3 linked regions of the Homo sapiens genome follow. The protein of the gene in region 2 purifies or fractionates together with the protein of the main gene of each other region. This does not show direct contact. Each region holds a gene or a part of one and is shown on either strand. Other genes may lie near its edges. The genes, in order: POP4, PCDHGB4 and GRAMD1B.

Evidence for each region.
Region 1: the proteins of PCDHGB4 (region 2) and POP4 purify together in Homo sapiens (affinity purification with mass spectrometry; 2 studies listed by BioGRID and IntAct, with this or other methods). This does not show direct contact.
Region 3: the proteins of PCDHGB4 (region 2) and GRAMD1B purify together in Homo sapiens (affinity purification with mass spectrometry; 2 studies listed by BioGRID and IntAct, with this or other methods). This does not show direct contact.

The regions. Positions count from the first base shown.
Region 1 is NC_000019.10:29,609,223-29,612,970, reverse strand, and holds part of POP4 (ribonuclease P protein subunit p29), read right to left. Parts: intron 2,563-3,748; coding exon 2,339-2,562; intron 1,110-2,338; coding exon 1,032-1,109; intron 855-1,031; coding exon 793-854; intron 1-792. UniProt on the Homo sapiens protein: Component of ribonuclease P, a ribonucleoprotein complex that generates mature tRNA molecules by cleaving their 5'-ends.
Region 2 is NC_000005.10:141,390,667-141,394,414, reverse strand, and holds part of PCDHGB4 (protocadherin gamma-B4 isoform 1 precursor), read right to left. Parts: intron 1,783-3,748; exon of another isoform or gene 1,602-1,782; coding exon of another isoform or gene 1-1,601. Other genes in the region: PCDHGA8 (protocadherin gamma-A8 isoform 1 precursor), read right to left, coding at 1-1,601. UniProt on the Homo sapiens protein: Potential calcium-dependent cell-adhesion protein. May be involved in the establishment and maintenance of specific neuronal connections in the brain.
Region 3 is NC_000011.10:123,428,480-123,432,227, reverse strand, and holds the start of GRAMD1B (protein Aster-B), read right to left. Parts: upstream 1,960-3,748; 5' UTR 1,436-1,959; coding exon 1,062-1,435; exon of another isoform or gene 1,014-1,061; intron 1-1,013. UniProt on the Homo sapiens protein: Cholesterol transporter that mediates non-vesicular transport of cholesterol from the plasma membrane (PM) to the endoplasmic reticulum (ER).

The sequences.
Region 1 (3,748 bases), on a different chromosome or scaffold from region 2:
GAGGCAGGTTTACTCCCATACGATGGGACGCTGCCAGAAGACTTGAAGCAGGGAAGGAACGTGCTCTGATTTCTACGTAACCGGCACTCTGGCTGCCTGGTGCGGTGAGGAGCTGTGTCTGAGGTAATCTGGGGAATGACAGTGGCTGAATTTAAGTAGTAGGATGTTCCGAAGGATTCGAGGAGATTAGGAAAGAAGAAACATAGACACTGTTTAGGTTTTTGGTCTGAACAACCAGTGTAAATAACTGAGTAATTAACTGAGATGGAAAAGACCAGGAGGGGTTGCTGTGAGGAGAATCGGTGGCAGCTTTGGCTATGTAAAGTCTGAGATGCCCCCTGAACATCCAGGTGGCTATGTCAAGTGGGCAGCTGGATGCCTGAGCCTGGAGTTCAGGGGACAGGCCTACGCTGGAGATGTCACCTTGGGGGCTGTCAGGTGTAGCTGACATTTGAAACCACAGCATTGGATGAAAGGGATTCTGTGTTCAAGATCCCAGGCCGTGGGTGAGTGCTCGCAGCCACTGTGCCCTTTAGGGTACCAACAGGGGTCCCTGTGTGGAGAAGGTACACAGAGACCACTTAGGGTGTGTCCAGCAAATGGCCGGACTGGCTAAGACAGCCAGCGAGAAGCATCTCCCACCCTTAGCGTGGGGATGATGGTGACTGGGGGCCATCTCAGGGAATCCACACGGTAAAGAGTGTGTCCAACAGAACACACGCCCTGGGTCTCCACAGAGTGACAGAGTGAACCTCTGGATGGCCATGTGCTACACGCTCTTAGGTAAATTACCTGAAATAATAGCCCCGTGAAGATCTGCCTTTAAGAGCTTGGCCTGAATCATCTGTGGCTGCCTGCAGGGTAAACAGAAGCCCTTGGTTTACATCATGATAAAAAGTTCCAAAAGAAGCAACTAGGTCTTTAACCGTCTGCAGCCAGGCAATACCAACGCTGGTTCCTGAAGCCGCATTTACAATGATCAGAGGCTTGAGATCCACCCCAAAGAGCAAAGCTTCAGGAATGCAACTTACGTGTCTGGCTTGAGCCCACTGCACAGGTCCCTGATGTACTGTTTCCAGAGTTCATGGAGAGGGAGGAAAAGGCTGTATCTGCAGCAAAGTCAGAAACAGGGAAAAAGTTAGACAACATGAGCTTGGGATGACAATGTCCAAATAGCACAGAGCTTGACTTGATGCCAACAACTGCAACCTGGGATCATTAGGAACTATGTGCAAATCCGACGATGAGCAATTGAGCTGATAACCGAGACCAAGAACCTACACCTCTCTAACCTCAGTTTCCTCATTGGTAGGACCACACCAGCCCAGGGCGGTGTCCACCTGGACTTCTTTTCATGAGAGAGAAATAAACGTGAGTCTTGTTGAAGCTACTGTTATTTTGAGGTTTTCTGTTACGTGAAATTGAACCTAGTAAGCCCCCAGTAAAGCAGGGGTTGCTGGTTGTCACGCAGGTCCTCATGTGAGGCAGCAGGCTGGTCTGGAAGGTGGGCAAGCAAGTGGTGGGGAGAAGAAGCGGGGAGCAGGGGCAAGGACCCCAACAGCGTTCTTCTGGGCCATTATCTCCAGTCTTGATATCCTGTGGGGAATCCGTTACCACAAAGCCTTAGGTTAGAGAAATGAGGACCTTAAGCTCAAACCCAACCTGGGCTCCACCCGGGAGGCAAACCCTGGGAGGCAGCAGCCCCTTCTCCACCTGAGGCCCAGCTGATCTCCTGAGTGGGGCCGGGAACAGCATGGCATACTTTAAGCGTCTTCTGGAGCGTGGGAGGCTATTTGGCCGTTGATCTCCAAGCAAAAGCCTACAGACAGCCCCAAGACACCCACACTCAGACCCGTCACCAAGGAGGGATGGCGGGTCGGCTGGAGGAAGACATCCTCCCACAGGACAGGACAGTGATGCATTCCTTTTGGAAACTTCTGAAACGTGTGGGCAACATCTTGCTTTGGCAATGAAACCCGAGTGGGTGACTGTCTGGCTCTATCAAAAGCTACAAAGTAATACACACTAAAAACATATCAGTTCCTCTTTTCTGTCTAACAAAGCCGAAGGACAAACAGCCTGTTGCCATGGGCAACAGATGTACTTGCACGGGTCTTACTCCTGAAGGTGAGGAGAGAGGCCAGACAATGAGTCCTGTCTCACCCGCCTCGCTGAACACAGCCCAGATTGGTAAAGGAAGGCTGCCCTCTTGTGGCAGACGACAGAGAGGCCCCCTTAGCTTAGGTGGAGCCAGGCTGCCTCCCCAGCCACTCAGCCAAGTTCACACACCAAGAAGGGTAAGCACCGCGGGCAGAAAGACGTGGGGAGCTCGGGTTACCTCTGCTGCTCTGGTTTAATGTCAAAGAGCCGCAGCTCCCTCCTTTGCCTGGCAGAGAGGCCTTTGGCTTTCTTCTTCTTCTCCTTGCGCTTGTGGCGGGTGAAGTACTCCAGGACCACCGCCTTGCGCTGCAGCTGGTCCTCGCGGGCCTGCGGGCTCATGCGGGGCGTGCTGCGCTTCAGGAAGGCCCTCACGAAGGCCTCGGCCCGCTGTGCTCCTGAAGGCTGCAGGCGGACAAGGGGGTGCGGCGCTCACTGCTCCGGTCTGGGCAGCCCAGGATCCCAGGCATCCCGCCCGCCATTCCCGGCAGCTACTGCAAGAGCAAATGGGGCCCATCCCTTTACCTACTGAGGCTCTCAACCTGCTCATCCGCCATGCATCTGCTACCCACAGCTGCCGAGATGTAAGTCACACTCACACACCAATTCATGACCGTTTGTCACACACAACAGCGTGTCAAACGCTCACTTCCTGCTCTGGCCCTGCTTTTCTGAGGTTATTCTGAAAGGACCAAAACCTTTCTATCTTGAAGAAGAATTCTCTCATCCTTGGCAGAAGAGAAAGCTTGAGAAATGTATAACAAATATATTCAACCAGGCATGACCAGATGAAAGTGAGCTCAGAGTAGCACTAAGCTATGGAGGAAGTGATCCTAACACTACAGAAAACAGCAAAACTAGGGCTCCAGGGTCGGCCAAGCCTCAGGGCGCAGGGACCCTGACACTGTGCCCTTAGGACAATACTCCTTAACCGGGTTTCCAGCTCTGTGGGCATGGTGTGGCCACTCTCCAAAAGGTCCGCTCCCGCCCCGCAGACCATCACTTGGAGGAAGGTACCGTCGAGAGCATCTCAGGCCCCAGGCTCGCTCTCTCTGAAGGGTGTCACTGAGAGCAGGGCGTCAACTTACCATGAATGAGCACAGGCTCTTAGAGAGGACTTCTGGGAAAAATGACTGTCGTAATTGTGTGCAATTCTCAAACAAACAAACAAACAAACAAACAAACAAAGAAACCCTCCAAGCTCACTACCTCTCAGGTTGGAGTTCCAATAACGGATTCCTCATTTGGTGGCAATGCCACTGCCCTCATGCCTGCCACAGACCTGGGCAGTTCTCTCTCCTGAGGGCCTGTCTCCTGGCTGGGCTGTTTCCTGAGCTCTTTTTGCACTAGCCAGGTGCTAAATGCTAAGACTGAGGCTGACAGACTGATGCTGATCTGTCAATAGTAACGCAGCCTTCCTTCTGTGGGAGAGCAATGGGGATGGGAAGATAGGGTACATATAGCCTTCGAGGGAGCTCACAGTATGATGGTGGGAACTCTGCTTCAGCTTTGCACCTGTAGATGCTAACTAAAAATTAATTCACTCTCGTCATTGTGACTATAATAGGACAATGATCTGATTCTCTTAAAT
Region 2 (3,748 bases):
GCTGTTACCAGTAGCTGCAGGTCTCGGATCTGCTCATAGTCGAAAGATTGCAGCGCATACAGGACACCGGTGTCAGAGTTGATGGAGATATACGAGGACAGGGGCGCCCCCTGCAGCGTGTCCTCGGTCACAGAGTAAGTGACCTGGGCATTCTCCTGGCTGTCGGGGTCGTGTGCAGTCAAGGAAAAGATGGAGGCTCCTCTCAGGTTGTTCTCTAGGATATACGCTGAGTAGGAGGCATGAGGGAAAGTAGGAGGGTTGTCGTTAATGTCTGCCACGTGCAGAGCGATTTGAGTTTCAGTGGACAGAGGTGGTGTTCCTAGATCTGAGGCCATCACTGTGATATTGTAGATAGAGACATTTTCTCGGTCCAAATATTTCCTTGTCACTAATCTATAATAATTACCTATTGACTTTTCTAATTTAAAAGGTAAATTATCACGTGTGTAACAGACAACTTGACCATTCTTTCCAGAGTCTTGGTCATGCACACTCAAGAAGGCAATTACTGTCCCGGGAAGAGAATTTTCTAACACTGGGCTAAACAAAGACGTAATGATCACTTCTGGTCTATTGTCATTTACATCTTCCACCGAAATGAGCAATTTGGTCCTCCCCAGAAGTGCCCCCACATCTTCGGCTTGTATTTCCATTTCATAAAATGAACATTCTTCATAATCTAGACTTTTTGCTATTGATATTTCCCCAGTATTTTCATTAAGCTGGAATAACGGAGTTTGTTTTTCATTAATTTTCCGGAATTTGTATGCCACTTTTCCGTTGATTCCCTCATCCGGGTCGCTGGCTGTTACAGTAAGCAGCCGCGTGCCTGGGGGCATGTTCTCAAGGACTTTCACTCGGTAAATCGGGTGAGGAAAAACCGGGGCATTGTCATTTGTATCCAACACTGTCACGTGGATGCGCACTGTGCTAGAGCGAGGCGGCTTGCCGCCATCCGAGGCCGTGAGGACCAGGTGGTGAGCAGCCTCTTCCTCCCTGTCCAGGGCGCGCTCCAGCACCAGCTCTGGGTTTATGGCTCCATTGTCTCCAGTCTGCACGTCCAGGGAGAAGTGGTGATTGGGGCTGAGCTGGTAGCTCTGGAGGGAGTTCACGCCCACATCCGGGTCAACAGCTTCTGGGAGTGGATAACGTGCTCCAGGAACCGCGATTTCGTTAATTTTTACTTCTAGATCTTCGACCTGGAATTTTGGGTTATTATCGTTAATATCAATTATTTCTATTTCTACCCCAAAGAGTTTTCCTTTATCCTCAACCAGGGTGTTAATATTTATCAGACACCGCGGGCTCTGAGCGCAGAGCTCCTCCCGATCTATCCTGCCCGCGGTGATCAAGCTGCCGCTGCGCGGGTTCAGAGCAAAGAGCTGCGTCCTACCTCTGGAGACGATACGGACTCCGTGCTTCGCCAGCTTCCGGGGGTCCAGCCCCAGGTCCTTGGAGATATTACCCACGAAGGAGCCTTTGTCCGTCTCTTCTGGCACAGAGTAGCGAATCTGTCCCCTCCCGATTTCCCACAGCGTTCCCAGCAGCGCGCACAGCAGGATCAGCTCGCCGCGTCTGGGGCGACTCTGTGGAGCGGCCATTGTTGTTTTGCTGCAGAATCCTCTCAGAATCTTCACTGTGCATAAATGGGTCTTATTTAGTTTCTTGCCGCAGCTATGGAGATGACAATCCTCCGGAAACCTGGAGTGCCTCCAAACAGGGGTCGGGTTTCGCTGCAGTCCAGCAGTTAGTTTGTGGCATCTGCGGGTCTTCGTGAGGTGTGAGATCTGAGTGTTTTCGGTTGCATTTGTCTTCCAGTAGGTGAACAGCGGCGCTTACAGTCCTAAATAGTTACTGCACTGAGATACAGATTACTTCTAAATGTAATACTCTACTAGATTACTGAGAAAAAAAAATCATTTGCTTATTACTTTGTTTTGAATTTATTTGATTTATCCGTAAACCCATATTTTAAAAGAAACAGCCAAAGAATGTGAGATGAAGGTTTTATTTAGTGTTATTAAATGATCAGATTAGATCAGAATGATCAGATTGTAGCATCGGATTAAATTACTCACATTTCTGCAATACATTTGGTCTTAAAAAAAACATGATACTTTCATTTCCCATTGTGCTCTAAGCTTTATTGTAAATGTCTCCAATATATACTAACAAATAACTAAGAACTTCAGTTGTCACCAGAAATGAATTTATCTTGAGACTAAAATAGACCTACTGGAGATGACTGACTCAGAAATTGTTTTATTTGGTTTAAACTACTTAATCATTTTACAAGCTTTCTATAGAGTTGTTGCTTTTAAATTATTCTTCTAAATGCCACTTGAATTACATGTCGATAATATTTTCAAATAAAAATTGTGGAATTTCAATAGGATAAATGCTTTTACCATTGCAGTTTTATGAGATATTACATTGTTTTGCTATTTTATTTACATTGTTTATATTTTTCTATTTGAATACTTGAAAGGTACAGATGAATATATGATAAAAAGCAAAGCTCCATCCCATCCCTTTCACCAAAGAGATGATTAAATTTAAAGCAGACTTGACTTTTACATATATTCTAAAATTAACTTTACCTACATTAACACTTTGATCTAAAAAACTGCAAAAAGTAATGACTATATAATACTTACTAAGAAGCCAAAGGATAAGTATGACTACAAAAAAGTCTGTTTCCCTTCAAGACCAGCCTGGGCAACGTAGCAGATGAACTTATTTCACCCTTCCTTTGAAGACTGGTATGATAGTTTTTTCACTGACTAAAACTTTCTTAAAACCACTCATGAAATCTGAAAACTTTATATTTTCCTGTGAATATATTTTCTTATGCATATGGAAAACTGGGTAGACAATGGAAACCATACCAGTTAAATTAGTGAAAGAAAATATTTTCTCTACTGAAAACAGAAAAATTAGCCAGGTCTGGTGGCATGAGCCTGAGTTCCAGCTAGTCAGGAGGCTGATGCAGAAGGAATGCTTGAGCCCAGGAGTTTGAGGCTGGAGGGAGCTATCATTGTGCCACTGCACTACAGCCTGAGTAACAGACAGAGACTCTGTCTCAAAAAAAAAAAAAGAAAAAAAAAAGAATCGAAAGACGTTTCCTTCTTTCAGCAATTTGTAAAGTGGCCATTAACTGAAGCAGTTGCTTAGATATACCTAGCAAAAGGCTCATATAATGTTCCTTGGTATTTTGTATATATTTTGTATGCACACCAGATTGGCAGTTTTCAAGACTATATTTCTTTCCTAGAGGTAGGAGAATGATTAGAAGACCTCTAGCTATATTAGTTTAGGGCTGCAGATAAGGCAGTTACACATTATATATTAGGGCTGTGTGTGAGAGGGACAACAGACACAAAACATTGTCTTTTCTTTGATGAAGGATATAGAATGAGCTTGAATACAGATTAATCCTGAAACTCCTATGTTACAAGTAAGGAGAATCTGCTTTTGATCTTCTAATGAGCATAGTAGACCTTTTTCTAAGTAAAAGGATCTCTCTCACACACACACACACACACACGCACACACAGCGTACACTGCATATAATCACAAGGGGTCCATGGACATAAAAATCCAGTTGACTCCTTATTCTAAGAGCTTTTGAAACAAAAGGGAAGTTAACACAGGAAACAAAACAGTGGACTACTATGGAGACCATACCAGTTAAATTAGTTAAGAAAAGTGTTGAATTTTAGCTTAAATTCTTTGGCTTTATTATTTT
Region 3 (3,748 bases), on a different chromosome or scaffold from region 2:
CAACCCCTTACTCTACCTATCCTTCCCCCACACCCTCCTCAACATCACCACTATTAGCTGTTACTAGACTGAGCTCACAGAAATATTCAGTAAGTACTTACTGAATTGAAATCAATGTAATTGAACAGATTTGGAGAAGGAATTCCAGGGAAAGTGATCAATGACTCAGTTGCTCCGCACAAGAACACAAATCCATTAAGAGACAGGACCCTAAAGTCTCAAAGTAAATATGTAGGATTCGTGGTACCGATGAACAAGTGAGGACTCCCTGCCCTCCACCAGGCAAGGGGCTTGGCTCAGACACAACTTCCTGAAGCAGCAGTCCTGACCAGGGCTGTGTAGAGCTGCTCTAGGGCGCCCTGCAGCAATTCTCTACGTGAGGGAAGCTCAACCTTCTCCCATTACCCAGATGCCACATTGACCTAGGCAAAAAACTAGCTGGTACAAACCACAGTCTTGTAGGTATCGATGTCTAAAGACTCTGATATGGTAGGAAATGTGACTCACTCAATGTCAATATTTCACTTCCACACAAGTGAGCCAGTTAAGGCAATCCGGTGTGGCCAAACATAAAATAAGATTGAAACGGAGTCCTGAAATATAAACCACTTAACTGTTCTCTGGCCTTTTACTATCTCCTTCTGTAGAAAGGGAGCCATAGTAATACCTACCTCAGAGAGTTTGCGTAGGGATGAAATCTGGAGGTACATGAAGTGCGCAACATAGTGGCCCGCACATGGTAAGGGCTCAATAACTATTAGCTGTTATTATTTTTATTATTTATTTCGCTGCGAGGATCAAGGGAGATGGAATGCAGCGTAAAGCCCCACGTAAACGTGTCGTGCAACATGAAGCCCCTCACCCTGAGTTGGGGAGCGGGTGGCACGCGTGGAAGCTGAATGCCACCATCCCTGGGACCAGGCGCAGCGCCCTCCAGAAGCGCCTCTGGTGACGGGCTCCTGTTCTCCCCCAGGACGTTTCCCCCAGAATGCCCCGGGGCCCTGGACGGCTCTGGAGAGGACGGGAGGGAAGGGAAGGAGACGGGCGGAACGGGGACGTACCTGCTTTCACTGCACTCCTTCCGCTCCCTCACCCTCAGCCACTTGCGGAGGAGGAAGCGTTTTCGGCGCGGGGACGCGCTGGGTGTGGAGCAGTTGGACCACGGGGTGTCCTCGTCGCTGGAGGGCGTGATCTCGATGGACGGCAGCTGCAGGAACTCCTTGCCGGGGGCCAAGACGGCGGGCAGGTCCCGGGCCAGCCCGGCCTCCAGGCTCTGCTCCTGTACGTTCTTCATGCGGCGCATCTTGAAGCGCCGGCGGCGAAGCGTGGGGGTCGACGAACTGGACCAGACCGGGCTGCCCTCGGGCGCACCCTGCGGCTCGGGCACCTGCAGGGCGGGCAGCGGCCGGTTCTCCATCATGTTGGCCGCCGGCATGGGGGCCGTCGCCTCTGCGCTCCCCCTGAGCCCTCCGCCAGCGGCCTGGTTCGCGTCTCCCTCTGGCTGTTCCCCACCCTCGGCCCCGCGGCACACTCCCCAATCCTGGGGCCGAAGGAACAAGTTCCTTTCCCGGAGCGCAGCGAGGAAGGGACGCGAGGGGACGCGGCGTAGCGCGCCGCCGCCCGGAGTCTAACTTTTCGGAGCGCGCGTCCTCCGGGCCGTCAGCCGCCGGCGAGGCCACCCGGGAGGGGCGGGAGCCGCCTGCCAGCCACTCGGCAGCCCTCCTGGGGCTCCCCTCGCGCGCCCGCTTGTTTTTCTTCCGCTGCGCTTCCTCGCTTGCTGGCGTCTTTGCCTTAGCGGGACTCGGCAGCCAGGGGCCCCAGGGGGCGGTGCAGCAAACTCTCAGCGGTTTGCGTTCAGCAGACCAGGTTGGGGAGCCGGCTTGGCGCTGCAGGGAGGTAGAGAGCGGGAGGAAGAGGCAGTGGTAGGAGGGAAAGGGAGAGAGAGACAGAGAGAGAGAGAGAGAGAGGAAGCGAGACACTGGATAAAAACAAAAAAGGAGGAGGAGGAGCGGGGGCTGGGGGCGGGGTGAGGGGGGCTATCCTGAATGGGCTAGCACTGGCAGCGACCGCTAGTGTAACTGTACACGGATTCCCTCGGGGAGGGACTCGACCTCCAAGTAAAGGCTGCTCCAATCAGCCTACTGAAATAGGATCACAAACCAAACTTTCTCAGGGCAACGATTGGCCAGGCAACTCCCATTAGTCGAACTCGGCTATTTCCTTGGGGGTGGGGGGTGCAGAGAAAGGGGAGTCAATGAATTCAGTCCTCACTCTCTCAGGCCACCCATGATACAGGGTTGAAGGAAAATGAGGAGACTTTTCAACTAGCTCTTGTCTCCTAAGAAAGGCAGTTTAAATTATTTGGGGGCGTGAGTAGTGGCACTGCAGGCCGGAGTATAGTCAGAGGAGGAAAGCAAGGTTGCTGGAGGCTGCTTCCAAAATGACAAGCTGAGAAGAGGACAGTTCTCCCGTGGCGGCGTGAGCTGAGGATACCAGACATGACATACCAAGGAAAGACAGACAACAGGGTCTGAGAGACAAAGGACACAGGACCAGTAAGGAAAATGGGGCCTGAACCCTGTACATGAGCCAGCTGCCAGTACCATAGCCGCGTCCCTAGCAAAGAATGAAATGAGGAGTCGGTGAGCACCCACAAAGCAATGCATCCAACAGAGCCCCAGGGAGTCGAGGGTACCCCCCCTTACATTGCTGAGGGCTGATTCAGTTCTGCTTCAGCCTGCCATGGACTGAGTCACAGAATCCAGTATGTCCCCATGTCATGGAACCTAGGAAGTCTGGTTCAGTCCTGGTAGCATCCCAAGATGTGCTGAACCACACTCACTCTCTAGACCCAGGCCCTAAGAGATCATCAACCCTAGAACCGATCCATCCTATTTAGGTGCTCTCTGTGGGCACTGAGTCTAACCCAGCCCAGCTCCTAGAGCAGGGCTGTAGCAGCCATTCTCCTCCTTCAACCCCAGCCCAATGCATTTGTCTCTTGGGTCAGTAACTGTTTTGTTTTGTTTTGTTTTTAAGAGACAAAGTCTCACTCTGTTGCCCAGGCTGGAGTGCAGTGGTGCAGTCATGGCTCACCGCAACCTTGAATTCCTGGGCTCAAGCTGTCCTCCCAGCTGAGCCTCCTGAGTAGCTGGGAGTACAGGTGCGCACCACCACACGCAGCTAAGTTTTATTTCTTTTTGTCGATATGAGGTCTTGCTATATTGCCCAGGCTGGTCTCAAACTCCTGGCCTCAAGTGATCTGCCCACCTTGGCCTCCCAAAGTGCTGAGATTACAGGCATGAGCCACCATGCCCAGCCTGGTCAGTAACTTTCAAAGAGATCATGAGAAGCACCCAAGAACATACCATGAAGTCCACAATCTGATCCACCCTTCTTTTCTGCCTCTCTCAGAGTCCAGTTTCCATCTGGGAGCCAATGCCCAGCTTCCGTGCCAGGACAAAAGTCACATTTCACAAGTGTCCCGAAGCTGAGGAAAATTCACATCCCTAAAGATCACAAGAATTCACTGCAAGTAAATACATCCCTGCAGTTCAGCAAGACATCAAGGATGACAGCTGGCTATGGATCTACCAAGCTCTGCAATGACACTTGTCAAGTATGGAAAAGCTCAAGGCATCCTGACATTACACAACTTTTGAGAGGCTGGGAAACCAAGGGAAATATTTCTTCCTCAGGGAGAGAGATACTGCGGCTGAAGAGCCAAGGCCAGGCCCTCCCATAAATGACT